Homo sapiens: one gene and its partners. The protein of the gene in region 1 interacts with the protein of each later gene in a pairwise test. Each region holds a gene or a part of one and is shown in the gene's direction. Other genes may lie near its edges. The genes, in order: BBLN, ATP6V1D, APBB2 and IKBIP.

Region 1 (7,877 bases):
ATGATCTTGGCTCATTGCAACCTCCACTTCCCAGGTTCAAGAGATTCTCCTGCCTCAGCCTCCCAAGTAGCTGTAATTACAGGTGCCCATCACCATGCCTAGCTAATTTTTTTTTTGTATTTTTAGTAGAGACGGGGTTTCACCATGTTGGCCAGGCTGGTCTCGAACTCCTGACCTTGTGATCTGCCCCCCCCTTGGCCTCCCAAAGTGCCTAATTGGTTTTTTACACTGTCATGCCCACCTTTGAGTGGTGCCTTTGTTTTAGCCTTCGTTTTGCATACTCACAAGCCAATCAGCATGCACTCCCCATTCTGAGTCCAGAAAAGCCCTAGACCCAGCCACACTGAGGGAGAGACTGCCCAACTTGGGGTGCGGGACCACTCTCACATCCCCTCTTTGCTGAGAGTTGTTCCATCACTCAACAAAATTATTCTCTGTCCTCCTCACCCTTTGATTGTCAGCGTATCCTCATTCTTCTTGGACTCCGGACAAGAGCTTGAGACCCACCAAGTGAGGGTACAAAGAAAGCTGTAACAGTGCTAGGGTTGAGCCAGCTCTGGAGCCACAGGCCAGAGCAGGTAACAGGGCTGACATCTTCCTGGACAGGGGTGTCACTGGCTGGGGGTCTCCGGCCGGCAGAATGACCAAGAAAAATCCTGTGTCACTATCATAAATCACCACAAACTGTGGGTTTAAAACAACACCTATATATTCTGGAGGTCAGAAGTTTGAAATCAGTTTGACTGGGCAGAAATGAGGGTCCACAGAGCTGTGCTTCCTCCAGAGGCTCTCAGGGAAGCTGCTCCCTGCCCTTCCCAGCTTCTCATGCTATCTTCCTTGCACCCCTTAGCCTGTGGCTCCTTCCTCCTTCAAAGGCAGTGGAGCATCAGCAAATCTCTTTCTCTGCTGAGGGCCTCACTCTCAGCCAAGGAGGGCAGGCTAGGCTGGGCACCATGGCTCACATCTGTAATCTGAGCACGTGGGGAGGCTGAGGTGGGAAGATCACTTGAGTCCAGGAGTTTGAGACCAGCCTGGGCAAGATGGTGAAACTCTGTCTCTACAAAATTGAAAATATTAGCCAGGCGTGGTGGTGGTATGCCTGTAATCTCAGCTAATCTGGAGGCTGAGGTGGGAGGATCACTTGAGCCCAGGAGTTTGAGACCAGCCTGGGCAAGATGGTGAAACCCTCTCTCTACAAAAATAAAAATATTAGCTGGGTGTGGTGGTGGTGCACCTGTAGTCTCAGCTAATCCAGAGGCTGAGGTGGGGAGTTTGAGGCTGCAGTGAACTATGATTGTGCCACTGCACTACAGCCTGGGCCACACAGTAAGACTCTGTCTCTAAAAAAAAATTAATTAATTAATTAATTAAATTTTAAAAAGGAGGTGAGCCTGACCTGGATGAGAGGCCGTTCCCCAAAATTCTTTGGGTGCTGGTTCAATGTCCTTCTTGCTCTCGCTCAATCTAGTTCAGGGAGGAGAAGGCAGGGCTGACCATGTGCAAGTCGCTGGAGACCCTCACAGCAGGCTTCAGATTCCACCATGCCCCTGCCTTCCTCAGGTAGAACAGTGAGGGTGGCTTCTGGGACAAGAGAGGATTCCACCCCATTGTCATTGTCTGGGATACATGCTTGGGCCTGACCTGGCATTGAGGATGGCCTGCCCACAGGGACAGCCAGTGTGAGACCAGGTCCAGGCTGCTGCAGCCATGATGCCTCCATGCACTACAGCTACTGGAGTCCCAGTAGGTGAGCCCCTCTGCCTAGAACGTGGGCCTGATTCTCAGCTGGACCCCTGGGCAGGATCATAGCTCTGGGTCCAACCCAGGGGTGACACTTGCCGGCTGGGTGACTGTGGGCAAGCCGCCTTCTCCTAGCTGGAAGTAGAATGTGGGATGACAGCAGCTGGGCCGATTGTCATGAAGCCTTTCTTGATGAGCAGTCCATGAAGCACTCTGCCCACGGCCCTCTACCCTCCACTGCAGCACTCACAGGCGGGGGCAGCAAACCTTTCCTTTATTGGAGAATGTGACACACAGTCCTGGGTGGGTTTGAGGTGAGCTTGAACTAAGGGAAGCCTCACCCCTGTCCTGCCCCTGTCCCAGTTAAGGGGCTCTCCCTAAAATGAACTATTCCTACTTCTCTTTATTTTTTAAAAAATTAAATCTAGCCAGGAATGGTGGTTTACACTTGTAATCCCAGCACTCTGGGGGGCCAAGGCGGGTGGATCACCTGAGGTCAGGAGTTCGAGACGAGCCTGGCCAATATGGTGAAACTAAAAATACAAAAATTAGCCGGGCATGGTGGCATACACCTGTAATCCCAGCTACTCGGGAGGCTGAGGCAGGAGAATTGCTTGAACCCGGGAGGCAGAGGTTGCAGTGGGCCAAGGTCGCACCACTGCACTCCAGCCTGGGTGACAGAGTGAGACTCTGTCTCAAAAAAAAAAAAAAATTAAATTTTTATTTAATCTTTTTTTCTCTTTGGCTTCTCAAAGTTCAACTTAAAAAGGTAGCTCCAGGGACCAGGCGCGGTGGCTTATGCCTATAATCCCAGCACTTTGGGAGGCCGAGGTGGGCTGATCACGAGGTCAAGAGATCGAGACCATTCTGACAAACATTGTGAAACCCCGTCTCTACTAAAAATACAAAAATTAGCTGGGCGTGGTGGCGTGTGCCTGTAGTCCCAGCTACTCAGGAGGCTGAGGCAGGAGAATCACTTGAACCCAGGATGTGGAGGTTGCAGTGAGCCAAGATTGCGCCATTGCACTCCAGCCTGGCGACAGGGCAAGACTCCGTCTCAAAAAAAAAAAAAAAAAGAGGTAGGTCCAGGCCGGGCATGGTGGCTCACACCTGTAATCCCAGCATTTTGGGAAGCCAAGGCAGGTGGATCACCTGAAGTCAGGAGTTTGAGACCAGCCAGGGCAACATGGTGAAACCTCGTCTCTACTAAAAATAAAAAAAATTAGCTGGGTGTGGTGGCAGGCACATGTAATCCCAGCTACTCAGGAGGCCGAGGCACAAGAATTGCTTGAACCCGGGAAGGAGAGGTTGCAGTGAGCTGAGATCATGCCACTGCACTCCAGCCTGGGCAACAGAGCAAGACTCTGTCTCAAAACAAACAAACAAACAAAGGTAGGTCTGCTCCAGGCCAAACTTTTTATTTATTTATTTTTTGAGACGGATTTTCGCTCTGTTGTCCAGGCTGGAGTGCAGTGGTGCAGTCTCAGCTCACTGCAACCTCTGCCTCGTGGGTTCAAGTGATTCTCCCACCTCAGCCTCCTGAGCAGCTGGGATTACAGGCACACGCCACCACGCCCGGCTTATTTTTGTATTTTTAGTAGAGACGGGTTTTCACCATGTTGGTCAGGCTGGTCTCAAACTCCTGACCTCGTGATCTGCCCGCCTCGGCCTCCCAAAGTGCTGGGATTACAGGCGTGAGCCACCAGGCCTGGCCTTTTTTTTTCTTTTTTTTGAGACAGGGTCTTGCTCTGTTGCTTAGGCTGGAGTGCAAGGGCACGATCTCTGCTCACTGCAACTTCTGCCTCCCAGTTCAAGTGATTCTCCTGCCTCAGCCTCCTGAGTAGCTGGGACTACAGGCGTGTACCACCACACCTGGCTAATTAAACATTTTATTTTTAATTAATTAATTAATTTTTTTTTTTTTAAAGACAGGGTCTCACTCTGTTGCCCAGGCTGTAGTGCAGTGGTGCAGTCATAGCTCACTATAGCCTCGAACTCCTGGGCCCAAGTGATCCTCCTGCCTTAGCCTCCCAAACAGCTGCAACTAAGGTGCATGCCACCAGGTCTGGCTAATTTTTTTTGTGCTTTCTGTAGAGACGGGGGTGGGGGGGGCTGAGTGGGCGGGGGTGGGAGTAGGGTGTCTCACTATGTTTCCCAGGCTGGTCTCCAACTCCTAGGCTCAAGCAATCCTCCCACCTCGGCCTCCCGTAGCGCTGGGATTACAGGTGGGAGCCACCCCGCCTAGCTAATGTTCCTGTTTCTCTTGTCCAGAGCTGGAGTCCAGCCTGATTCCCACCCACAGGTTGTAACCAATGAGCCCTAAGAGAAGCGCTGAAGACCAGGAAGGCCCAGATCCAGGGGTAGGGGTGTTGGGTCCTCTCCACTGGGGTGCAGGCAGAGAGGCAAAGAGGAAGGAGACCCTTCGTGACTCTCAGCGAGGCTGTGAAGAAGAATATCCGGAAGCCACAAGAGGTATATCCGGAAGCCACAAGAGGTGTGGAAACCCCGTTTCCAAGGCTGGGCCCAGTAGCTCGTGCCTGTAATCCCAGCATTTTGGTAGGCTGAGGCGGGTGGATGGCTCGAGCTCAGGAGTTCGAGAGCAGCCTGGGTAACATGGCGAAACCCCTCCCCCCCCCCCCCCCCCGTCTCCAAAAAATACAATAGCCAGCGTGGTGCAGCCGTCTGTAGTCCCAGCTACTCTGGAGGCTCAGGTGGGAGGATCGCTTCAGGCTGGGAGGCAGAGATCACCCCACTGCATTCCAGCCTGGAAGACAGGGCCAGGCCCTATCTCAAAAAATAACAAGGAAACCCCGTTTTCGATTTCGCCAACGCGGAGGGGCCGAAGCAGCAGATGGGCTTGGACGGTCTCCCGCCGCTCCTCCCGGACCTCCCTACTCCTGGGCTTTTCCAGGGGCAGCCCCGTGGTGGCCCCGCCCAGCGCCCGGGAGAGGGGCGAGGCCGGGGGCGGAATGGGCGGAGTTCGACTGTGAGGGAGGTGGAGGCGGGAGTCCGGTGGTGGGGGTGGAGTCTGGAGGTAGGGCGGGGCCAGAACAGCGGCGGGGGCGGAGTTCCGGCTGGGGGCGGGGCGGGGCGGAGCGGGAGCTGCGGGATTCCGGCTTCAGGGGCGGGGCACCGGCCTCTGGGCGGAGATCTGCTGCCGCGTTCTACCCTTCCGGCCCGTGTTCTATCCGCCGCCTCCACCTTCCATCCGGCGCCGGCTTTCGGCGCGACGGTCGCCGCGTTCCATCGTCGCGCGGCCCTTCGGGCGCCCGAGCCCGCAATGTCGGGCCCCAACGGAGACCTGGGGATGCCGGTGGAGGCGGGAGCGGAAGGCGAGGAGGACGGCTTCGGGGAAGCAGGTGACCCGAGGGGGCTGCTGGAGCAACCTTGCATTTTCAGGGCTGCCCTCCCGGGAAGGGGAATCGAGATGGGGTCTCGGAAGGGAACAAAGAGCCCACCCATTCCGCCCCGAGCGGGTCCGGAGTTGTAGGTGCTGTCTCGGATGCAGGGCGAGCACCCGCGAGCCGGTTCCCAGCCCCGTGAGAGCTGCAGGTCACCAGTCCCGTTTTACAGATGGGGAAACTAAGGCAGCTTCGGGGACACTCGCCCTTGTGGGCCTTGCTCCACCACTTCCTTCAGTCCTGGGGGAGACCGAGGCACCTGAGGGAGGCAGGGTTGAGCTTAGCGGAGGGGCCGGGCCGGGACGTGGAGTTGGGGACGCGGGGGCGTCGCTCTGCCGATTCAGCATCCCCAGCCACCCGGCTTTGCTGGTGTAGCCTCACAGCCTTGCCAAATGTCAGCAGCTTACAGAGCAGCCTTTTGCGTGCTTACGAGTGCAGGGGTGGGGTGTGAAGAGAACCATCGGCTCCCTTCTCACCTTCTTCAGCCTCAGTTTCCCCCTCTATAAAATAGGAATAACGATTAGTGTCTGCTGCACTGGGATGTGTCAGAATTAAATGCAAAAAAAAGGAAAATCCTTAGCAGGTTCTAGCATGCAAGAGTTCAGTAAATGGTTATCGTCATTATTATCTTTGGTATAGTAAAGATTGGCATGTTAACATACACTGAGGATTTAGTAAATGTGGTGTAAGTATGGTGCATGCTCTTTGTTTTGTTTGGCGTAACAGCTTTATTGAGCTATACAACTTACCCATACTGTACAGTTCAGTAGGCTTTTGTGTATTCCCAGGGTTGTACATCCATCACAATAGTTTCAGGTAGCTCTGCATTGGGCAATGCTGTTGGGAGCATCAGGAAGAGCTTCCCAGGAGGTCACATTAAGTGGATGTTGGCAGACAGGACTTAGAACAGTGGGGAGGAGGGTGGTGTCCCAGGCAGAAGCAAAGGCTTGGAACTGGGAAGTACCCTTGACACAGATAAAGCCTGGCCTGGAGGGGTGTGGGGCACCTGCCTCCCCAATTCCTCCTCCTAGCCTGTATCCCAGGACACAGAGTTCGAAATATTGATAATAATGACCATCCACTAAGTACTTGCTGTGGCCAGATCCTGTCTGAGCTTTTTTTTTTTTTTTGAGTCGGAGTCTTGCTCTGTTGCCCAGGCTGGAGTACAGTGGCGTGATCTTGGCTCACTGCAACCTCCGCCTTCTGGGTTCAAGCGATTCTCATGCCTCAGCCTCCCGAGTAGCTGGGACTACAGACGCCTGCCACCACGCCTGGCTAATTTTTATACATCTTTAGTAGAGACAATGTTTCACCACGTCGGCTAGGCTGGTCTCGAACTCCTGACCTCAGGTGATCCACCCGCCTTGGCTTCCCAAAGTACTGGGATTACAGGCGTGAGCCACCACACCGGCCACTGTCTGAACTCTTGATGTGTTTGAATCCTCACAACCTTTTTTATTTTCCCTTTTTTCCAGAAAGGTACAACTTGCTGGGGTAAAGCAGAGCTGAAATTCAAACCCAAGTGACCCTGACCCCCAAGTCCAATCCTGAGTTTCGGCTGTTACCAACCTGGAGGACCCTGGGCAGGTTCCTTCCTTCTGAGGCCTCGGTTTCCCTAGCTATATACCATGAGGGGGTTGGACTTTAAGATGCAGCCGATTTCCCAGGACGCTGTCGTCTGTGAGGGTGGCTGGCTCTAGGCAACGGGTGCCCTTTCCTAGAACACAGGCACATATGCACCCATAACCCAGATACGCTCCTCCAGCTCCTCCACCGGCTGCTTCCCCCTTGGTCTCAAGCTGGCAGCTGAGTGTATGTGAGTCATGGGCTGGCTCAGAACTGGGTCCCGCAGTGGGCACAGGCCCAGACCTTGAGTCCTCAGGGACACTGTGTTGCTGAGCAGGGCAGCTCTGGAGTGGCCGTGGAGGGGAGGGAGTGATGGTTTCTAGTGGAGACCAGGGAAGGCTTCTTGGAGGAGGCATTTTGAGCTGGTCCTTGAAGGGCTGTTGTGGTTGAGGCATTCTAGGTTGCAGGGATAGTTGAGCAATGGCGGAGAGGCTGGAAAGTCAGAGGCTTCATTCATTCACTCACTCAGTCATTCAACAAATGCTTATTGCAAAACTGTGAGGGCACCAGGGAGCCAGCAGCGAACACAGGACCGTTCATCTTTCATGGGGAAACATAACAGCACTCAGATAAGCACAGCAGTCAATCCTGGAGAGAAGGTCGTGGAGGGCTGAGGAGGGCTAGGGGCTCAGCATAGAGGCCTGATCCAGTCTGGGGCATTGGGTGGGCTCCCGGTGGTGACATCCATACTGAGACTTGAAGGATGAGTGGGACTCATCCAGGAGGAGAGAAGGGAAGGAAGATGGGAGGACCCAGCACCTTCCAGGCAGAGACAGCAGCATGTTCAAAGGGCCTGAGGTAGGTAAAGGCAGGTGTGAGAGAGGAAAGGAAGAGGCAGGGAGGCAGGGCTAGCTAGGAGGCAGGGGCTGGAGACTCCGCTGGGTGTTTTATCCTGAGGGAGCCACAGAAGGGCTGGCGAACAGGGCCCATCTGGGGACAGAGGCCTTGAATGCCCAACTCAGGAATGTGGGCTCTGGCCACTAAGCAGCTGCTGCAGGAAGTGCAGAGACTTGGCATCTGGCAGGACTTCCCATGTAGGACACTGGCTCGCCACCCTATGACCACCCTAACCCTAGAAAAAAGGATGCAGTACTAAAGTGTCATTCATTC
Region 2 (8,083 bases), on another chromosome or scaffold:
ACGTTGTATCATAAACATTTTTCCTTATTTTCAACATGGCTGTATGATCTTTCTCAAGATGTATTTTTTTTTTCTCCTAATGCTGGGTATTTGGGTTAATTCTCAGTTTTTTGGAATATTAGGGAAAGTGCAGTGAACATTTTTACACATATGTATTTTTGTTTCTACTGAATTATTCCCGTAGGATAAATTTTTGAGAATTGGATTATTTAAAAGGCATGAACTTCATGGCTTTGGTGACATCAGTAAATCCTTTACAAAGCATACAAAATAGCTTGCAAATGTGTTATGCCAATTTACATATGTTATGTAATTCTCCAAATAACACTATGAGATAGGTAAGGCAAGCATTGTTATTCTCAGTTTTAATTAAATGCCTTCCTGAGGTCACTTGGCTAATTAGGGGCAGAGGCAGAAGTTGTTTTCAAGGTTTCTGATTTTATTATTTTCCTAATGACATGATGCCTATTATCTAGGAGCTTTCACTGCTCTTGGGCCTTAATAAGGCCCTTTGAAGTGGTAGGCTTTCATTTTTGCCAGTGCTGGTAAGATCACAGCTTGCATTGAATTTTCTAGCAGAGGGTGGAGATCAATCAATAGTGTATAAGTGGTATGTGAGTGTTTTAGGGTGGTTATGGGGAAGATACTTTCTATAATATTTATTTTTGTTTTGTTTTGAGATTGGGTTATGAGACTGGCTAATTTTTGTATTTTTGAGTTTCACCACATTGCCCAGGCTGGTTTTGAACTCCTGGCCTCAAACAATCCTCCTGCCTCGGCCTCCCAAAGTGCCAGGATTACAGGCGTGAGCTATCGCACCCTGCCAGGAAGGCACTTTCTGGTAACATTTGAGAAGTCACACAAAGCCAGATGGAACATAGTTTCCAGGGTAAAGGAATTGAACGCCAGCTTAACCAATTCAATAGCAAACCTAGAAAGGAGTTTTCTCTATCTCACACTAGCAGAAGAATCCTTAAAGTTATATCCATGTAGCACACCTCTGACTGAAAACATAAGCAATCCACGAACTTTAAAATCATTCTTTGTTCTTTTCTTACTGCTAATGTTTTGAATATTGTTCATTCTCTGCTTTCAGAGGCCCTCCTCTAGCAGTAATGACTTTTCTCCCTTTTTGGAAAAAGGACAGTTATCAAAACATACTTAATTGTGACATCTCACTCTTGGTCTCATTTAATGTTAAAACTATCCAGTGGGTCCCTGTAGGTTTATTTCTGAAGAGTCTGCTAAATAAAGTCTTTCTCTTTTTCTGCAGCACTACAGTTATCCAAAATGTCAATAAAGCGCAAGTGAAGATTCGAGCGAAGAAAGATAATGTAGCAGGTAACGTTTCAACCTTTTAGAAACCCTTTGGGGAGAAAAGAGGTGACATTTTAAAATTAACCTGTTTATACAGCAAGATCTTAATGTCCTAGTTTCTTCCTTCTACTTAGAACAAGTTGATTGGCTTTACATGTTAAAATCATTAACAACCAGGTTTCTAATTACTCAGGATAACTTGACTTTTGTATAGAAGTGAACACTTAAGAAGGCAGGTTCCGGCTGGGCACGGTGGCTCATGCCTGTAATCCCAGCACTTTGGGAGGCCGAGGTGGGCGAATCACAAGGTCAGGAGTTCGAGACCAGCCTGGCCAACATGGTGAAACCCCATCTCTACTAATAATACAAAAATTAGCCAGGTTTGGTGGCACGCGCCTGTAGCCCCAGCTACTTGGGAGGCTGAGGCAGGAGAATCGCTTGAACCCGGGAAGCGGAGGTTCCAGTGAGCCGAGATTGCACCACTGCACTCCAGCCTGGGTGACAGAGCAAGACTCTGTCTAAAAATAAAAAATAAAAAAATAAAGAAGTCAGGTTCCACTGGATGTGGTGGCTCACACCTGTAATCCCAGCACTTTGGGAGGCTGAGGTGGGCGGATCACAAGGTCAGGAGTTCGAGACCAGCCTGGCCAACATGGTGAAACCCCATCTTTACCAAAGAATACAAAAATTAGGCCGGGTGTGATGGCTCACACCTGTAATCCCAGTGCTTTGGGAAGCCAAGGTGGGCGGATCGCCTGAGGTCGGGAGTTCGAGACCAGCCTAATATGGAGAAATCCTGTCTCTACTAAAAATACAAAATAAGCCAGACGTGGTAGCGCATGCCTGTAATCCCAGCTACTTGAGAGGCTGAGGCAGGAGACTCACTTGGACCCAGGAGGCAGAGGTTGTGGTGAGCCGAGATTGCGCCATTGTACTCCAGCCCAGGCAACAAGAGCGAAACTCATCTTTAAAAAAAAAAAAAAATTAGCTGGGCATGGCATGTGCCTGTTGTCCCAGCTACTCAGGAGGCTGAGGTGGGAGAATCACTTGACCCCAGGAGGCGGTGGTTGCAGTGAGCTGAAGACCACACCACTGCACTGCAGCCTGGGCGACAGAGTGAGACTCTGTCTCAAAAAAAAAAAAAGAAGGCAAGTTCCTAAATTCATTAATTGAAACCAATTACAATTCCATACTTAAGCTCTTGATTTTTGAGTTTGATGAAAAAGAAACACAGAAAACAGTGATTAAGAAACAGAATTTAGGCCAGGCGCGGTGGCTCATACCTGTAATCCCAGCACTTTGGGAGGTTTAGGCGGGTGGATCACCTGAGGTCGGAAGTTCAAGACCAACCTTACCAACATGGAGAAACCCCGTGTCTACTAAAAATACAAAATTAGCCGGGTGTGGTGGTGCATGCCTGTAATCCCACCTATTCAGGAGGCTGACCAGGAGAATTGCTTGAACCTGGGAGGCAGAGGTTGCGGTGAGGCGAGATCACGCCATTGCATTCCAGCCTCGGCGACAAGAGCAAAACTCCGTCTCAGAAAAAAAAAAAAAAGAGAGAACTTAAAGGTTTATGAATCCATGTATGCTTCTGTGTTTAACAGGTGTTACTTTGCCAGTATTTGAACATTACCATGAAGGAACTGACAGTAAGTGTGAAACTTTTTGTATTACTTTGTGTCTCTGGGATTTCCTGTTTCCTCTTTAAATGAACTAAGTTCTGGAAAATGGTGCTAGATGTTGAGAGGTTCCTGAGTTAGAAATCCTCTTATTTGATATAGTCAGGACAATAGTTGATCAGTTAATCAAAAGGTCTTAAGGCCGGGCACAATGGCTCATGCCTGTAATACTGGCACTTTGGGAGGCTGAGGCAGGCAAATCTCCATCTCTACAAAAAATATAAAAAATCAGCCAGGTGTGGTGGCACGTGCCTGTAGTTTCAGCTACTTCCAGGGCTGAGGAGGGAGGATTGCTTGAGCTGGGGAGGTAGTTGCAGCGAGTTCTGATCACGCCACTGCACTCCAGCCTGGGCTACAGAGCAAAACCTTGTCTCAAAAAAGAAAAAGGTCTTATGCTAGGAAGTCATAAAACATTATACATATCTTAAAATATTTCAATATTTTATCAGAAATATATCAATGTAGAATCACTTGCTATTTAAAAAATATAAGGCCTTTTGAATATGAATTCACTGATTAGACTTCTGTGTTGTTTTTCTGCATATCCTACACCCACAATGCACTGCTTATAATTCCCAGTTTGGGTCTCTTTAAAGTCAAATAAGATCTTAGACACTGATGCAACCTGAATGCTGATTCTTTCTAGATTTTTATAGCCCACTTCCACTTTTTAAATAACTGTCTTATTCATTCCATTCCTAGTTTGACAGCATATTTTCTTTCCAAAGTAAAGTATTAACTTTTTTCATAGAAACAATATTCTTGGCCAGGCACAGTGGCTCACACCTGCAATCCCAGCACTTTGGGAGGCTGAGGCAGGTGGATCACCTTAGCCCAGGAGTTTGAGACCAGCCTGGGCAACATGGTGAAACCCCGTCTCCACCCAAAAAGTTACAAAAATTAGCTGGGCCTGGTGGCATGCGCCTGTGGTCCCAGCTACTCGGGAGGCCGAGGTGGGAGGATTGCTTGAGCCTGAGAAGTGGAGCTTACAGTGAGCTGAGATCGCACCACTGCACTCCAGCCTGGGTGGCAGAGTGAGACCCCATCTCAATAAATAAATAAACAAATAATATTCTTTCTTTTGGCACTTGTATTTCCTTGCTTCATGTGATATTTAATTAAATCATATAGAATATTAAGTACATTTCATACGAAGAAGTAGAGCATTCTAGAGAGAGTCACCTGTTCACAGAGTGTCATCGTACTCTGGGCATCAGGCAGTATGATTTTCAAAGGGAATAAGGGGCATCAAGCTAGTGAAGTGAAGGTTGGTTAAAAGCTTCCTTTGTAGTTATATTTAGAATAGTATTCTTGTGGGAAACTGTATTTAGTAGCATGCTCCTATAGTGTTTGGGGAGTGAGATAGGCACTTCATGTTTACATTCAATGAAGATTAGTGAATTCATCTTTCCATATTTGTTATTATTCTGAATTATCTCCTTTTGGGGAATTTTATAGGGAAGATATTTTACTCTAATTAAAAATGTTGTCTGACTGGTCCTTTCAGGTTATGAACTGACTGGTTTAGCCAGAGGTGGGGAACAGTTGGCTAAATTAAAGAGGAATTATGCCAAAGCAGTGGAACTACTGGTGGAACTAGCTTCTCTGCAGGTAAGTAGCAAAAGACCTGGAGAACTCCTGTAGTTTGATTTGTAACAGTCAAGTGGAGGAGAGTCAGGTCTTGAGTCAGCATATACTGTGCTTTGTACTTTTAACTGTTCCCATGATCCTATGTAAAGCAAACATAATATTTTGATTTCTGAAGTGATGGCTTTTGTACCATTGTCCCTACTTTTTAAAATTTATGTATTTTTTATTTTTTTGAGATGGAGTTTTACTCTTGTTGCCCAGGCTGGAGTGCAATGGCGCGACCTCGGCTCACTGCAACCTCTGCCTCCTGGGTTCAAGTGATTCTTCTGCCTCAGCCTCCCAAGTAGCTGATTACAGACATGTGCCACCATGCCTGGCTAACTTTTGTATTTTTTGTAGAGACAGGGTTTTGCCATGTTTGTCAGGCTGGTCTCGAACTCCTGACTTCAGGTGATCCACCCGCCTCGGCCTCCCAAAGTGCTAGGATTACAGGCATGAGCCACTGCACCTGGCCCCTACTTTTAATTTAAAAATTTATTTATTTTTCGAAATGGGGTCTCACTGTGTCACCCAGGCTGGAGTGCAGTGGCATAATCCCAGCTCACTGCAACCTTAACCTCCTGGGCTTAAGTGATCCGCCCACCTCAGCCTCCTGAGTAGCTGGGACTATAGGCATGCCCCATCACACCTAGCTAATTTTTGTATTTTTTGTAGAGGTGGGGTTTCACCATGTCGTCCAGGCTGGTCTCGAACTCCTGGGCTCAAGTAATCAGCCCGCCTCATCCTTCCAAAGTGCTGGGATTATAGGTATGAGCCACCACACCCGGCCCCTGCTTCTTCTTGTTAACAAAATGTATGTGCTATGGTACACTCTTGTTTTTTTTGTTTGTTTGTTTGTTTTTTTCTTTGAGACAGAATCTTGCTCTGTTGCCCAGGCTGGAGTGCAGTGTTGCGATCTTGGCTAACTGCAGCCTGGATCTCCTGGGCTCAAGCAGTCTCCCGCCTCAGCCTCCCAAGTAGCTTGGACTACAAGTTTGTGCCACCTCGCCTGGATAATATTTTTGAATTTTTTAGTTGAGATGAGGTCTTGCTACGTTGCCCAGGCTGGTCTCAAACTCCTGGCCTCAAGAAATCCTGCCATCTCAGCCTCCCAAAGTGCTGGAATTATAAGTGTGAGCCACCTCACCCAGCCCAGTTTCACTCTTTGCTAAGTAAGAATAGCAAGTTGATACTAGATTTAAATGTAAATGTAAATAAACATCGTTTGTGCATGGAAGACCATTTTTTCCCCTATGTGGCCAGTTAGTATATATCTAGGTTATTAATGCTTGATTCTTTCTTGTCATTTTTATGTTGTTATTTAGGTGAGACTATAGTAAACAAATTATAATAGTGTCAACTCAAGTAAAGCCTGTTGAAGCAGAAATGATTTGATAAAGGTTTATTGAAAGCCAAATGTGAGGATTGACCCGGGAAGACACCAACAAAGTTGGGTGTGTTCTAGAGTCTGCTACAAGTTGGAAGGCTTTTATGGGAAAGTTTAGGAGAAGGGAGGACTCCTCATACCCAAGTTGTCCTTTTCATTGGCGAGTACAATACAGAGGTCACAATCATTGGCTACAGATTACAAATACAAGCTAAAATGTTCTACATGCAAGTAAATCATGAAGTAAAACTTCATGAATCAGAAACAAATCAGTGTCATTTTCAGCGTCAGTAGGTTGCATATTAATCAGTATGTCAGCAGTCTGAGAAACTTAAGATTTCCTTACTCAGGGACAGGATGTAAACCATGAATCATAAGATCCCTCAATCTGCCCAGGCAGGTTAATTTGGAAACCTACCAAATGTGACATGTAGGTTATCAATAGCATGGAAATAGTGTTAGCCCTATGGAAATCTCACAAGAATTTTGTTTTTGTTTTGTTATGAAGAGACAGGGTCTTACTCTGTCACCCAAGCTGGAGTACAGTGGCACAGTAATAGCTCACTGCAGCCTCAAACGATCCTCCCATCACAGATTACCAAGCAGCTGGGACTACAGGTGCATGCTACTACACCCAGCTAATTTTTAAAATTTATTTCTTGTAGAGGCAAGGTCTCATTGTGTTGCCCAGGCTGGTCTTGAACTCCCAACTTCAAGTGATTCTCCCACCTCAGCCTCCCAAAGTATTGGGGTTATAGGCGTGAGCCATGCGCCCAGCCTAAGAATTTTGTTTTTTAAGCATGCCAAAAAGAAGTTGTCTTGGTTCTCAAATGTTTTCTACAAGTGCAGTCTTAGTGGAGTCAAGTGATCAGGGAATGATTAGGAAGACTTTGTGCTTACATTATTAATTTGTTCTTATTTTAGACTTCTTTTGTTACTTTGGATGAAGCTATTAAGATAACCAACAGGCGTGTAAATGCCATTGAACATGGTGAGTATTAGGTACTGTGAGGTGCTTTGTCACTTGTCCATACCCTCCACTTGTCGTGAAACTGCTAGAATTCAGGGACTGTACTGAAGACTGAAAGATGAATAAGATGCTTCCCTTGCCCACAGTGCAAAGAGAGAAGTGTGTCCATAGTAAAAAAAAAAAGTGTTATGAAGTGTTCTGATAGAAGTACTTGTATGATCTGGGGGAGTTACACACATAGGAAAGTGGTGACTTAAAAATTATGGAATGTTTTCTTCATTTCCAGTTATTCATGCAGTTATTTAAGGGTAGGAATATTTCTCAAGATCCTTAGTGTTTTCTGTAGTTCTTTCTAATGGTTGAGTGATGCAACTTTTTGAGTACATTAAATATTTAACTTTAAATCAGTATAAGCCATTCTCCTTGATTTCTAAAAAATTTCCCATTTGATGCACTTATTTTCCATCTCTTTTATTTCACTATTTAAAAAATATGACTGCTTAGTGTTGATGGTACTTTTTGCTCAATAAACTTAGTTTTTATTAAAGAAACACTCAATTTTAGGTAAGAAAGCAAAATTTGAAGTAAAGAAATTCCTTTGCTTGGGAATTTCTATATTAATGCTAGTGAGAAATATATTAACTATTATATTAACTATGTATAATATGATATATTAACTATATTGTTAGAAATATATTAACTGTTATATTAACTATATATTAACTATATTAATGTTAGTGAGAAAGTTACCTCATTTTTTAAAAAACCTTTTTGACTGCTTGCTAGTGCCAGGCCTTGTACATGAAAGTGGAAGCAAAGAAAAAAAAAAAAAAAAGGATAATTCGTAGTTCTTACCCTCAGAGTTCACATTCTAGAAGCTGAACAGGTAAACTATGTAAAGTCGAGCCTAATGACGTAAACTCAATCGAGCATTCTCTCTGCTCGATTTTTTAACAGTTGATTGCTACTATATTTAAAATAACATCTGTGCTTCAATGTTATATATTCATAGAATTCAGCACATTCAGTGTTGTATTTGTTATGGTCCAATAGGTTATCTATGCATAGAAAAGACACTAGAAGGGTATACACCACCAT
Region 3 (8,333 bases), on another chromosome or scaffold:
ACTGAAATAGGAGTGGAAGGAAGGAAATCATCCTATGTGAGGCCTACCAGAAGCTTTACATATGTTATTTAATCTTAAATAAACCTATAATGAAAAAATTAACATGCCCATTTTGCAGATAAGAAAAGTGAGATTCAGTGAGGTAAAGTAGCTTGCCCAAGGTCACACAACTACTAAGAGCTGGAATGTGAAATAAGGTCTTACTCCAGTGCCCCTATTCTTTCCATGATAGTAGGGGACTTTATGCTTTGTACCTCTTTGTACCTTTCTACACTCTAATAATAATTTTAGTTTGGAAAAATAGGACTGAAGCTCAATGGGAAGGTAGACCATGGAAACATGGTCCTCCCAGGAATAGTGCAGTATGAAGAGAGATTAAAGGATTGCCCTAATGACATTAAGGCCCAGAGCAGCACTGTTGAATACAATTTTTTGCAGTGATGCAAATGCTTTTTACTTACATTATCCAATACAGTAGTCATTAGGCCATATGCTACTGAGCACTTGAAATGTGGCTAGTATGAAAGAGGAACCGAAGAGTTAATTCTAACTGATTTTAAGTGATTTCAGATTAAATAAGCATATGTGGCTAGTGACTGCCATATTGGATGGTTTAGGACTAGAGAAACCAGTCAGGCGTAGAGGGTTCATCAGAGAAGAGGCCTTGCTGGTACCCCTGAAAAATCACTCGATATTTGATCATCTGCCTCATACCTCTGGGTAATATTGGTCCTATATTTGGGGACCATAATTTATTAGCTAGCAAAAGGTTTTTTCCTAGTGTGGACTACAAACTTATTTTACTATGTTTTATCTTTAGGAGAGTAAGTACAATACTCCCTCTCCTTTCTTATCTGAGAATCATTATAGTCATTTTCTCTGTATTTACATTTTTCCATACATAGTATTATTTAAGAGCTCAAGCTCCAGGAAAACTGCCTGGGTTCAAATCCCAGTTCTGCCAATGAATATTTTGTGCCTTGAGTTAGCTGCTTCACATTTGCAAGCCTCACTTTCCCTATCCATAAAATAGGGATAATAATAGTGCTTCATTTATAGGGTAGTTGTGAGGATTGAGTTAAATAACCTATGGAAAATGCTTAGCCAGTATCTGGCACATGCTAAATAGTCAGTAAGAGTTAGCTATTCTAAAACTAGTACCGTGTGACAGTGTGTATTTTGTACCTCTGCATTTTGACATTTACTCAACTCTATTTTTGCTTCAATAGAAGGTGTTCCTCCAGATCTCTGTCAGAACATTCCAAAAAGAAATTCATTCCTCAAGATAAGAAGGTAGACAGAGTTTTGAAGAATTAGATTTTATCTTATTGCAGGCATGAGTTTTGAGTTGTTTTTTATTTCACTTTGATTACTAAATTGTTAAAGTATTTAAAATCATTACAGAAGAAAATCATGACCGTGATATTTTGTTGTGATCATTAAAATTCCCTTGGTTTAAGCTCAAACCGTTGCACATATACCACACAATCAAATAATAATACTAGAAGTTCTTAATGTTGGCACAGAAGATTTCTTGATGTTTTGTAGTTATACTGTTTTTTTTGTTTTGTTTTGAGATGAGGTCTTGCTGTGTGGCTCAGGCTGGAGTGCAGTGGCTATTCACAGGCAAGATCCTACTGCAACTTTGAACGTCCAGCCTCATGTACCCTCTTGCCTCAGCCTCCCCAGTAGCTGGTACTACAGGCTTGGGCCACTGCACCTGACTCATACCTGTTTAATTGAAATATTTAATTCCTAGACTCTGGCTATTCAATGCCACTTAGAAGTGGCTGGATATTTGTTGATCATGGACTATTTAAAGACTAATGACGTCACAGGAACAAGTAATAGGATCCCTTTTGTTGTCACCTATTTTGTATTTTGTAATCTTTGGATTGTAAAACTGCATTGTAATATAGTATTGCACTCCCTACGGTGTTTGTGCAAAAAACATTTTTTTTTCCCCATTAGATTGGAATTTTGAGAAATCTGGCTTCAAGTGCCAGTTCTGCCTTTGGTTTGTCTAAATAAAGAAGTCATTTATTTCTCTGGGCCACAGAGAGGTAAATGTCATCTGTAAAGTCTAAGAGTTGATCTTGATTTGATTCTAGAATGGTCTTGAGGTATCCTTCCAAATAAAATTCCTTGGATCTGCCTCCTTCCCCCAACTCCCTAGGAGGACCTTTGGCCTTAAGGGACTTAAGAGAGGTCAGTTTTATCTACTGTTCACAGCGTTTACTTCCATGCTTTAAAAAACATGCTCTTGGAATATTCTTGGATATTTCATTTCCTTGGAAAACAATTAATGGGTGAGTCAGCATGAAGAAAAAAACCCACTCACAATAGATATAAAAATTGCATGAAGTGGTGAAACGAGAAATGATTTTCTTTGTAAACTGAAATGATGAGGTATGCAGAAACCAATTACGTATTTATAAAATGAGCGCGCGGTGGGAAAGCTTTATGTAGCAAAGCTAAAGTGCTGTTACATATTTAGCAAGACAGAGGGCATGGAGATTCCTCTCCATACTGCCTTAAAACTGCTGTTAAACGTTCCTTTCAGTGAGAGAGACAATGTGTTGGGAGGCGGACGAAGGAAGGAAGCAAGGGAAGGGTCAAAGCCTTCCCTCCGGCCCCGATCAGTCCCCTCTGTAAATTCATAATTAAGGGAATTTCCTCCTGCAGCTGCGCAACGCTTGGTGGCCGTTTCGACGTCACTGTCAGGGCATTTCAGGGATTTTGTGTGCCCAGGCAGTGACTTCCCGACTTCTCCGGCGTATCCCCGACGGGGCGCAGAACACCGCCCGTGGCGAAGTCGGGCCGGGGGAGTTTGGGAACCCGTCCCCGGGAGCTCAGCGGCCAGAGGAGGGCGCGGAAGTGTTTCCTGGGTGAGCGCGGCAGCGGGACCCGTTTCCGGAAGGCTGATTGCATCAGGTGTGGAGCAGGGCGCCTCCTCGGCCCAACCTGGCGGCCTCTGCGCCTGCGCGCGCCGCCCCGCCCCCCCCCCCCCCCCCCCCCCCGCCGCCGCGGACTCCACCGCGGGTTTTCCTCTCCGTCGGGAAGAGACCGACCTGGGAGGGGCAGGCTCCGCTCACCTACCCCGGACCCCCGAGAGAGAGCGGGGTGGCCAGGCCGGGTTCCGGGGATCTGAGGGGAGCTGTGAGGTCCGGGAATAGAGTGCCTTGGAAAGAGGACCCGTCTGCAAGGTTGGAGGCTGGTCGATCTCCGCTCCTGACGGGAATGGTGGTCTTGGGCTGGTTTCCTTGCCTCTTTGGCCTTGAAGATCACAGACTAAGAACCACAGGCTCTCCAGTTCAGAGAGCCTGTATTTTCCCCAAGAGGTCTACTGTGGCCCTCGACTGTCCTTGGTCCACGGACGTGTTAGGTGGATCTTGGGGTGCAGAGACTCAGTCCCAAGAGTAAACACTTTTCATGAATTTATAGGGATTTCTCTGTGACAGTATTGTTTTTATGTTGTAGGAAGGAGGGACATGATTGCTGGCCTCCAGCTCGGTCTGAGGGAGATAATTGTTAATTGGAGAGGTTATTGGAGTGCAAAAGTCAGAAACCACCTTCCACAAGGCAGCCCCCCTCCCATCCCTTCGTAACAACCTCACTGAGTCTGCATGAGGGTCCCTCTATACACTCTATTCGCACCTTGTGCATTTCCCTCCCAGCACTCTACCTGTTTGAAATAACCGTTTTGAGTGATTATTTGATAGGTGTCTGTCACCCGGCCGGACTATAAATTCCATGAAAGCAGGGGCCTGGGCTTTTAAATTCACCACTATCCTCAGGCCTAGTACAAGACCTCGTGGATCCTTAATAAACTCATGTAGGAAAGAATAAAGTAATGCCCACCCCACTGCATAGAGTCCTCATAGGAAGAATCACGTGAGTTTTTAATTCGAGATCCTTGGTAGGACTGTGTGTGTGTGTGTGTATGGGTAGGGTTCTCTAAAGTGTATAGTCCTCACACCAGCAGCATCAGCATCCCATGGGAACTTGTTAGATATACAGATGCTTGGGCCCCACCACATATCTACCCATTCAGAGACACAGATTGGGACTCAGGGATTTGTACTTCAGCAAACCCTCCAGGCGATTCTGATCCAGGCTCCAGTTTGACAACCGCTGCCCTGGTGAAGAGCAATCCTAAGGATACTTTGGGGATGTCATTCACAGCGTCTGGGGCAGAGCACGGTTTACCGTTTACTGAGACTCGACTCTTATCAGGGCTTTGTTTGCACGCTTACAATTAGAGTTATAGATAATATTATTGGCAATGGAAAGGAAAACCTCCTTTTCCTCTCCGGCAGTTGTATCTCTCCCCTGATATTATCTTGTGATTTCCGGATCAAAGAAGAGTGTGTGTGCGGCATATGCCTGGGGGTGGGGATAGGAGGTAGAAGGAAGGAGAAGGTGTCGCCTACAACTTGCAGTTAGCCTGGGTGGGTGTGGGCAGCTCTCCTGTGGGGACATTTTCCTATTGCAAGGGAATGCTGGCGTGTGGGAGAAAAGCCAGGGCTAAGGTAACCCAACTGCCTTTTGGTGCAGACAGACACCAGCCACACGGAGGGGATACCCGGGCTGCACTGCACGTCCTGCCTTTGGGTCTTACTGGGGGACCCATTGCCTCCCTGCGTGTTCCCAGGCGATTGGGGAGGGTGCCTCCCGCAGGCCCTGCCGCCTCCACCTGCAGGGGTCGCCCTGGGAGCGCGGCCCGCCTCCTTCTGCCCGGCCCCCACCCCCCGGCCCCGCCTTTCTCCCATTCGGCCCCCTCCCCGCCGGGTCCCTCCAGCCTTCCCTCGCGCAGCCGCTGCCAAAGCCTGGAGAAGTGGAATCTCGTCAGCGCCGCTCCCTGCGCGGGACTCGCGGAACGGCACTGAGCATGCTCAGTTGCCGGAGCCCGTTCTGGTCTCAAGTAGGAAGCTAGTGCGCTGTAACCGCATCTGATCTGGGCGCTCCGGGAAGGGCGAGACTGGAGCAGAGCCGCTGGGCGCCGGAGCCGAGGCGAGCGCCGCGCGCACCACTGGTGAGCCCAGCTTTCTTCCTTGCCTTTGCCCCGGATTCCGGGGCAGCACGAGAGTGCTGGGGAAACACCCGGGTAGCGGCAGCAGCGTGCGGCGAGCGGCTGCGGGTTCCCCCGGCGGCTTCTCCTCTGCTCCCGGCCCCGGGGCTCCGCGGCCACTGCTGCCCGCTCAGCCGCAGCCACACCTGCAGCAGCTGCCGCGGCATCTGCAGCGGGGCGCCTGCTGCGGAGTCCCGTGCGCCCTGCGCCCGCGCCGCAGGGCCAGTGGCACGGCGACTGCGGGCTCACTCTCCTTGACTTCCATCCCTCCCGCTTCCCGGCGCCCTCTTTCCCTCAGCAGCCCCGGCTTGGCAGGGCCTGGGGCGGGGGAGACCGGGTTGGAGGCGGTGCGCCCGGGTGGGGACTGCAGAGGGGAAAAGTGAGGGTGGGCGCCTGCGGGAAGAGCGCACACCCCCTTGTCCTGGCACCGGCCTCCGCTGTGCCGCTCGGCTGTCTCTCCTGGGCGGCAGCGCGCTCCTGCCGGGGAGTTGGAGCCGGGGTTGGCTTCTCCACGAGGGGTTCAGAGGCCAGCCCATGAGACATGAAAGGGGGGAAAAGTTCCTTTTCCCCCTCGGTGGCAGAGAGAGCGTTTAACTAGAAAATGGCTGTGCATAGGGGACCGACTCCAGGAAACTGGCCACTGGGACCCGAAAGCCCCTGCGCTGCCCACCGGGCGGAATGGAGGGTGGTACGCTAGAAATGACATTTGTGCGGCGAGAACAGAGCTGGACGGAGGGAAGGATGCTGAGACCCATAGAAACAATGAAAGGTGGTCTTCACGTCGGTGAAGTGGTGTAGACTACGGGTTCGGGGCAAACAGCCGAGGGAGCATGGGACTAGAATTCAAAAAAATAAATTAATTTGGATAAATCATATGTGGAGTTGTCACCGACCGTTCTGTAGTCAAGTTCTGCGCGGTTTTAGAGCCACGACTGTCACAGACGTTTTTGGATGGATTGAGTGGTTGAGGAGGGTTAAAATTGAGAGGAGAATAAGGTCAGTGTCGGAAGCTCCAACTGGGCTCTCGGAGGGGACAGTTTGTTTAAGTCCCTCAGTCACTGGCTTTACATTGTGTCTAATTACTTACGTGAAATACCCAAAGGATTATCATAAAATGATGCCATCGGTGGTGTTTGAATTCCAAGGAATGAGGAAACTTTGTGAGGTTGGCATGGGTTTATCATTTGTTTTAATATTTCACTGATTTAAAAAAAACAAACACAATGGCAGTTTGATCTGTTGTTTCTGGAGTTTACTCTCTTAAATCTTGCTTTTTTTTTTTTTCTTGTCATGGTTTCAGATTTAAAATCTTGTCCCCAAATGGCCATAATAATGCAGAGTATTAGAATTTGTGTGGCTGGCCTTTTAGGAACAGATGGAATCCTTGAAAGGGGATTTCTTCATGAACTTAGGTAGCAACCTTCTCGTTTTCAACTTGTAGCTTGTAAGCAATATTTGTTCAACAGTTGTTTATCATAACTTGCAACATCCTAGAAATGGCATCGTTCGTGAAGGATGGTATTTGTGGCGAGAATGGGGAAACCTCCAGGCTGGGGAAATGCCGAGAGAACACAGGTGGCAGTAGAGTACAGTGGGTTGATCATAGGGCGGAAGGTGGTGGGGTACAAGTACAAGATTTCAATTGCTGTTCTTTCGTTGTCCATGTACTGTATGACCCCGAAGTCACCGACAGTCTTCGTAAACTGGATGTAACCACGTCTCTAGATATTTGCTGAGAGCCTTTGAGAGACGACTCTAAAGTTGAGATCCTTTCCACAGAAGGTTTTTAGGTCCTATGCTTTTATTCCCTCTTCTAATGGATACTTTTAACTGAATAAATTCACCTTCAAGGAGCCAATGTGAACTGGCTTTCTGAAATTTTTATAAAGTGGTAATTGAAAAGCTGGATGGTGAGGTGGGAGGATTGCTTGAGCCTAGGAGTTTGAGGCTGTAGTGAGCTATGATCACGCCACTGCACTCCAGCCTGGGCAACAGAGTGAGATCCTGTTTCTGAAAAAAAGAAAGCTTGATGAGCTAAAGTGCAAAATACTGGTGTTTACACTTAGCTGGAGTAATGTGAATACTGACTCCAAAATTACTTGGGAAAAAACTATTGCATATATTGTAAGAATCCACATGTACAAACATAAAATATTTTTAAACTGGTACTTTTTGTCATGTTTCAACCTTTTGATGACTGTTTTCTTTTCCTGCCACCAGAAAAACAGCATATGAACATTGAATTCTTTTATTTTTCTGTTACCACAGGAATGAATACTGAAAGCCTTGTCATAATATTAGAATAATGATGTGTGTGGACTATCCTGAGTACTGGATATCTAAATTTATCTTTTAAGAAAAATGGAAGGGAGAGCATCAGGAAGAATAGCTAATAGATACTGGGCTTAATACCTAGGTGATGGGTTGATCTGTGCATCAAACCACCATAGCACATGTTTACCTGTGTAACAAATCTGCACATCCTGCACACGTACCTGGAACTTAAAAGTTGAAGGAAAAAATAAGAAAAATGGTATGTCGTGTCTCTGTACCTTTTTCAATTTCATTTTAAAAATAGACAATACCTGGCCGGGTACGGTGGCTAACACCTATAATCACAGCACTTTGGGAAGCTGAGGCGGGCAGATCACTTGAGGTCAGGAGTTTGAGACCAGCCTGGCCAAGAGGTAAAACCCCCGTCTCTAAAAAAATACAAAAATTAGCCGGGTGTGGTGGCTCCCGCCTGTAATCCCAGCTACTGGGAAAGCTGAGGCAGGAGAATCACTTGAACCTGGGAGGTGGAGGTTACAGTGAGCCAAGATCGCGCCACTGCACTCCAGCCTGGGCAAAAGGGTGAGACTCCGTCTCAAAATAAATACATAAATAAAATAAATAAATAAGTAAATAAATAACAAAACAAAACTGGACAATACCCTTGTGATATAACACCTTAAGTTTTCCGGGGGCGGGGGAGGGGAGCAGGTGGGACAGACTTTTAGGAAAATATTGTAATAAGTTATTACTGGTTATGGGGGGAATACTTATTTTCCTACATGGGGTTAGGAAACCAGCATTTGTTCAGTGCCTAGTATTATTATTATTATTATTATTTTTGAGACAGAGTTTCAGTCTGTCACCCAGGCTGGAGTGTAGTGGCGCGATCTTGGCTCACTGTAACCTCCACCTCCCAGGTTCAAGTAATTCTCCTGCCTCAGCCTCCTGAGTAGCTGGGATTCCAGGTGCCCGCCACCACGCCTGGCTA
Region 4 (4,040 bases), on another chromosome or scaffold:
TACAAAGTTGCAGTTTCTAAAAAGCCAAAAAACCATAAAAATGACATCGAGGGCTGGGCGCGGTGGCTCACGCCTGTAATCCCAGCACTTTGGGAGGCTGAGGTGGGCGGATCACGAGGTCAGGGGATCGAGACCATCCTCGCTGACACGGTGAAACCCCGTCTCTACTAAAAATACAAAAAATTAGCCGGGTGTGGTGGCGGGCGCCTGTAGTCCCAGCTACTCAGGAGGCTGAGGCAGGAGAATGGCTTGAACCTGGGAGGCGGAGCTTGCAGTGAGCCGAGATCACGCCACTGCACTCCAGCCTGGGCGACAGAGCGAGACTCCGTCTCAAAAAAAAAAAAAAAAAGAAAAAGAAAACTGACATCAAAGTTACTTACCATTAGAGTTAAAAGGAGGAAATTGCATCTATTTCAGGCACTTTAACATTACTTTTCTCTTGTATATGCTTCCATAGAAATGCTGAAATATCTAGGATTGTGTGTTCAGGTGTATTTTTTTTTTTTTTTAACATAGTGCTGGCCAGGCGCGGCAGCTCTCGCCTGTAATTCTAGTACTTTGGGAGGCCGAGGCAGACGGATCACTAAAGGTCAACAGTTCAAGACCAGCCTGGCCAGCATGGTGAAACCCCATCTCTACGAAAAATACAAAAATTAGCTAGGCATAGTGGCGCGTACCTGTAATCCCAGCTACTCAGGAAGCTGAGGCAAGAGAATACGTTGAACCTGGGAGGCGGAGGTTGCAGTGAGCTGAGGTTGCTCCACTGCACTCCATCCTGGGTGACAGGGTGAGATTCCGTCTAAAAAATAAATAAATAAATAAAACAATGCAGGGTTAACGTATTTGTGAAAACTATTAATGTAATAAATATCTTTGTCAGTCTGATTCTGATATACTTGGATATTTTAGACATCTTCAGAATTTTAACGTGGCATGTGTTATGCTCCTGATTGTTAAAGTGTGTTTCTCTAATATGAAAATTATTAAGTAGCCTTGGGAATTGTTTTGTGTTATAAATGCAGCTTGAGTCTACTGAAAGCATCCTGCAGGAAGCTACATCATCCATGTCTTTGATGACCCAGTTTGAGCAGGAAGTATCCAACCTCCAAGATATCATGCATGACATTCAAAATAATGAAGAGGTGCTCACTCAAAGGATGCAAAGCCTTAATGAGAAATTTCAGAATATTACGGATTTCTGGAAGAGAAGCCTAGAAGAAATGAACATTAATACAGACATTTTCAAATCAGAAGCAAAACATATACATTCTCAAGTAACTGTCCAAATTAACTCAGCTGAGCAGGAAATAAAATTGCTCACTGAACGGCTAAAAGATTTGGAAGATAGCACACTAAGAAATATTAGAACAGTAAAAAGACAAGAAGAAGAAGATCTCCTGCGAGTAGAGGAGCAGCTAGGCTCTGATACAAAGGCAATTGAAAAGTTAGAAGAGGAACAGCATGCCCTCTTTGCCAGAGATGAAGATCTGACTAATAAACTTTCCGACTACGAACCCAAAGTTGAAGAATGCAAGACACATTTGCCAACAATTGAAAGTGCTATTCACTCTGTTCTCAGAGTCTCTCAGGATCTGATAGAAACAGAAAAGAAAATGGAAGACTTGACTATGCAGATGTTTAATATGGAAGATGATATGCTGAAAGCAGTGTCTGAAATAATGGAGATGCAGAAAACCCTTGAAGGAATTCAGTATGATAATAGCATATTAAAGATGCAAAATGAACTGGATATTCTAAAAGAAAAAGTTCATGATTTTATAGCATACTCAAGTACAGGAGAAAAGGGAACTTTAAAAGAATATAATATAGAAAATAAAGGAATTGGTGGTGATTTTTAAATTCATGACATTTATTCTGATGAACCATATCATTATACATAAATTGATTAGTCCATTGATTTTGAGTTACTTTGATACGCCTCATCTTATCCTACATTATTGGAAAATAAATGAGATGTCCACACAAATGGATTATCCACATAATCAAAGCTTATCTTTTTAAGCACTAAAACTTACTTCATTGTAACTATTTGAAATAGAAATAGTTCTTTAAAAATATTTCTCTACTTTTAAAACAAGATACTTAATATTTTTAATGTTTTTTAAAGCATTAATGAACATCATCATTAATTTCACCTATTATATTGTACCCACATATATTGATGTCTCCAGGGGCTAATAAAGAGTATTTACCACTTCACTAAATGACCCCAATTTGCCATTTTCAAACCTATGTCTCATACCTTTTCTGTCACCTGAACTTACTGTCAGGTTGGTTGGTAATGTGCCTGCCTCAGCCAGTTCACTTTCTTAGGTAATTCACTGCAGGTTAAGAATCCACACAACCAAGTTCATGGGAATTTTGTGTAAAATAAAAGATAACATGCCTGAGGGAGAGCCTGGTGCCTTTGCTATGAATTAATATGCACTTTCTGAAAACTCTAAAGCCTGGGAAACATTTTAGTTTTTGTTAAGGTTCTAAACTGTGTTACAGATACTTGTAAGACTTTTAAAATCAGAGTAAGTATGTTCTTACATAAGGCCTTTCTTAGGAATTATGTGTATATAAATCTTTGAAATATCTTTATATACCTGAGTTTTAGGTTCCAACTGTGTTAGACATGAGTTTGCTAGATCCATGGTCTCTAGATGGTTTACTTAAATAGGCCAGGCGCAGTGGCTCACACCTGTAATCCTAGCACTTTGGGAGGCCGAGGTGGGCAGATCACGAAGTCAGGAGATCAAGACCATCTGGCTAACAGGGTGAAACCCTGTCTCTACTAAAAAATACAAAAAATTAGCCAGGCGTGGTGGTGGGTGCCTGTAGTCCCAGCTACTCAGGAGGCTGAGGCAGGAGAATGGTGTGAACCCGGGAGGCAGAGCTTGCAGTGAGCCGAGATCGCGCCACTGCACTCCAGCCTGAGTGGCAAAGTGAGACTCTGTCTCAATAAATAAATAAATAAATAAAAATAAGCCTGTGGCCTGTTTTGAGGGAAAAGTAACATAACTCTGATAATTAATTATGATAATAACTATGATAGTTAAAAATACGTCATTTTAAAGATTTCCCAAACCACACCACTAAATTTGTTTTATGAATTGATTTTATTTTATTTGAAATTATATAATGTAGTCAACTGCAATATGGAAGTTTGTTCTTGTTTCTTTGTCAATAACCTTACCAGTTTTATAATGCAGTTTTTGATGGAATTAAACACAAAGAACTTGAAAGCAGTCAGTTACAAAAAGGTAGTTGTGGTCAAGTAGTTTTAATATGTAAATTTGCAAGTTTTTGGAGAACCCCCAAACTCCTTCTCCACTGGAGTTAGGAGGGCCTGTGGTAGACAGCGTGAATCATGAAAATAAGCCTGGAGAGTTCTGTTATTAAGGGGCATAGCATTAATTTTTGCAGTCTTAAAATTACACTTCTTGACTTCTGAATGTCTCTTATTTGCGTGCACTGACAAAATTCTATTTGTTTACTTTTATATTAATGGTAATAAAATAGATTATAAAGTAAGCTGGAACTTTGTTGTTTTAACCTCCATCCTGTCAAGGCAAATGTGATCTCTTATCTTATATCCTTTACGTTTAAATATTTTTTTCTCACCGATCACCACATTTAATATGAGGTTATTATGAACTTATATATACCATGGTAATGGTTACTGAAAGTAAATGGAAACAAGGTGGCTACTGTTCTCTATAATGACACAAGGGAAAGGAAGAAAACTGCACTTCTACAAGTATAACATGAGAAAACTATTAAAGTATATATGCGTTTGTATGTATGTATAGATATCTAGATAGATATATCCTGTATTTATGAAGAGGTTTTCCTATTAAGAAATTATTAGAGAGATTTAGATGTACTTAATTTGTCTTTCTCTCTTTCTTCCATTCATTTATTTAACACAGATGCTTAAAATTTCAAAAACTTTCCTGTGTATCAAATATTAAATTACATTGTTAGTCTTTTCTTTAGGGAAAATTACCAATATCCTAAAACACATTTTTGTA

The links.
Region 2: the proteins of BBLN (region 1) and ATP6V1D interact in binary tests that used the Homo sapiens proteins (3 or more experiments, as listed by UniProt).
Region 3: the proteins of BBLN (region 1) and APBB2 interact in binary tests that used the Homo sapiens proteins (3 or more experiments, as listed by UniProt).
Region 4: the proteins of BBLN (region 1) and IKBIP interact in binary tests that used the Homo sapiens proteins (3 or more experiments, as listed by UniProt).

The regions. Positions count from the first base shown.
Region 1 is NC_000009.12:128,155,388-128,163,264, forward strand, and holds the start of BBLN (bublin coiled-coil protein), read left to right. Parts: upstream 1-4,877; 5' UTR 4,878-5,020; coding exon 5,021-5,099; intron 5,100-7,877. UniProt on the Homo sapiens protein: Essential for intermediate filament organization in intestinal cells, interacts with intermediate filament and regulates intestinal lumen morphology.
Region 2 is NC_000014.9:67,342,295-67,350,377, reverse strand, and holds part of ATP6V1D (V-type proton ATPase subunit D), read left to right. Parts: intron 1-1,273; coding exon 1,274-1,341; intron 1,342-2,924; coding exon 2,925-2,969; intron 2,970-4,506; coding exon 4,507-4,610; intron 4,611-6,939; coding exon 6,940-7,006; intron 7,007-8,083. UniProt on the Homo sapiens protein: Subunit of the V1 complex of vacuolar(H+)-ATPase (V-ATPase), a multisubunit enzyme composed of a peripheral complex (V1) that hydrolyzes ATP and a membrane integral complex (V0) that translocates protons.
Region 3 is NC_000004.12:41,211,107-41,219,439, reverse strand, and holds the start of APBB2 (amyloid beta precursor protein binding family B member 2), read left to right. Parts: upstream 1-4,897; 5' UTR 4,898-5,035; intron 5,036-8,333. UniProt on the Homo sapiens protein: Plays a role in the maintenance of lens transparency, and may also play a role in muscle cell strength. Involved in hippocampal neurite branching and neuromuscular junction formation, as a result plays a role in spatial memory functioning.
Region 4 is NC_000012.12:98,623,749-98,627,788, reverse strand, and holds the end of IKBIP (inhibitor of nuclear factor kappa-B kinase-interacting protein), read left to right. Parts: intron 1-1,022; coding exon 1,023-1,859; 3' UTR 1,860-3,540; downstream 3,541-4,040. UniProt on the Homo sapiens protein: Target of p53/TP53 with pro-apoptotic function.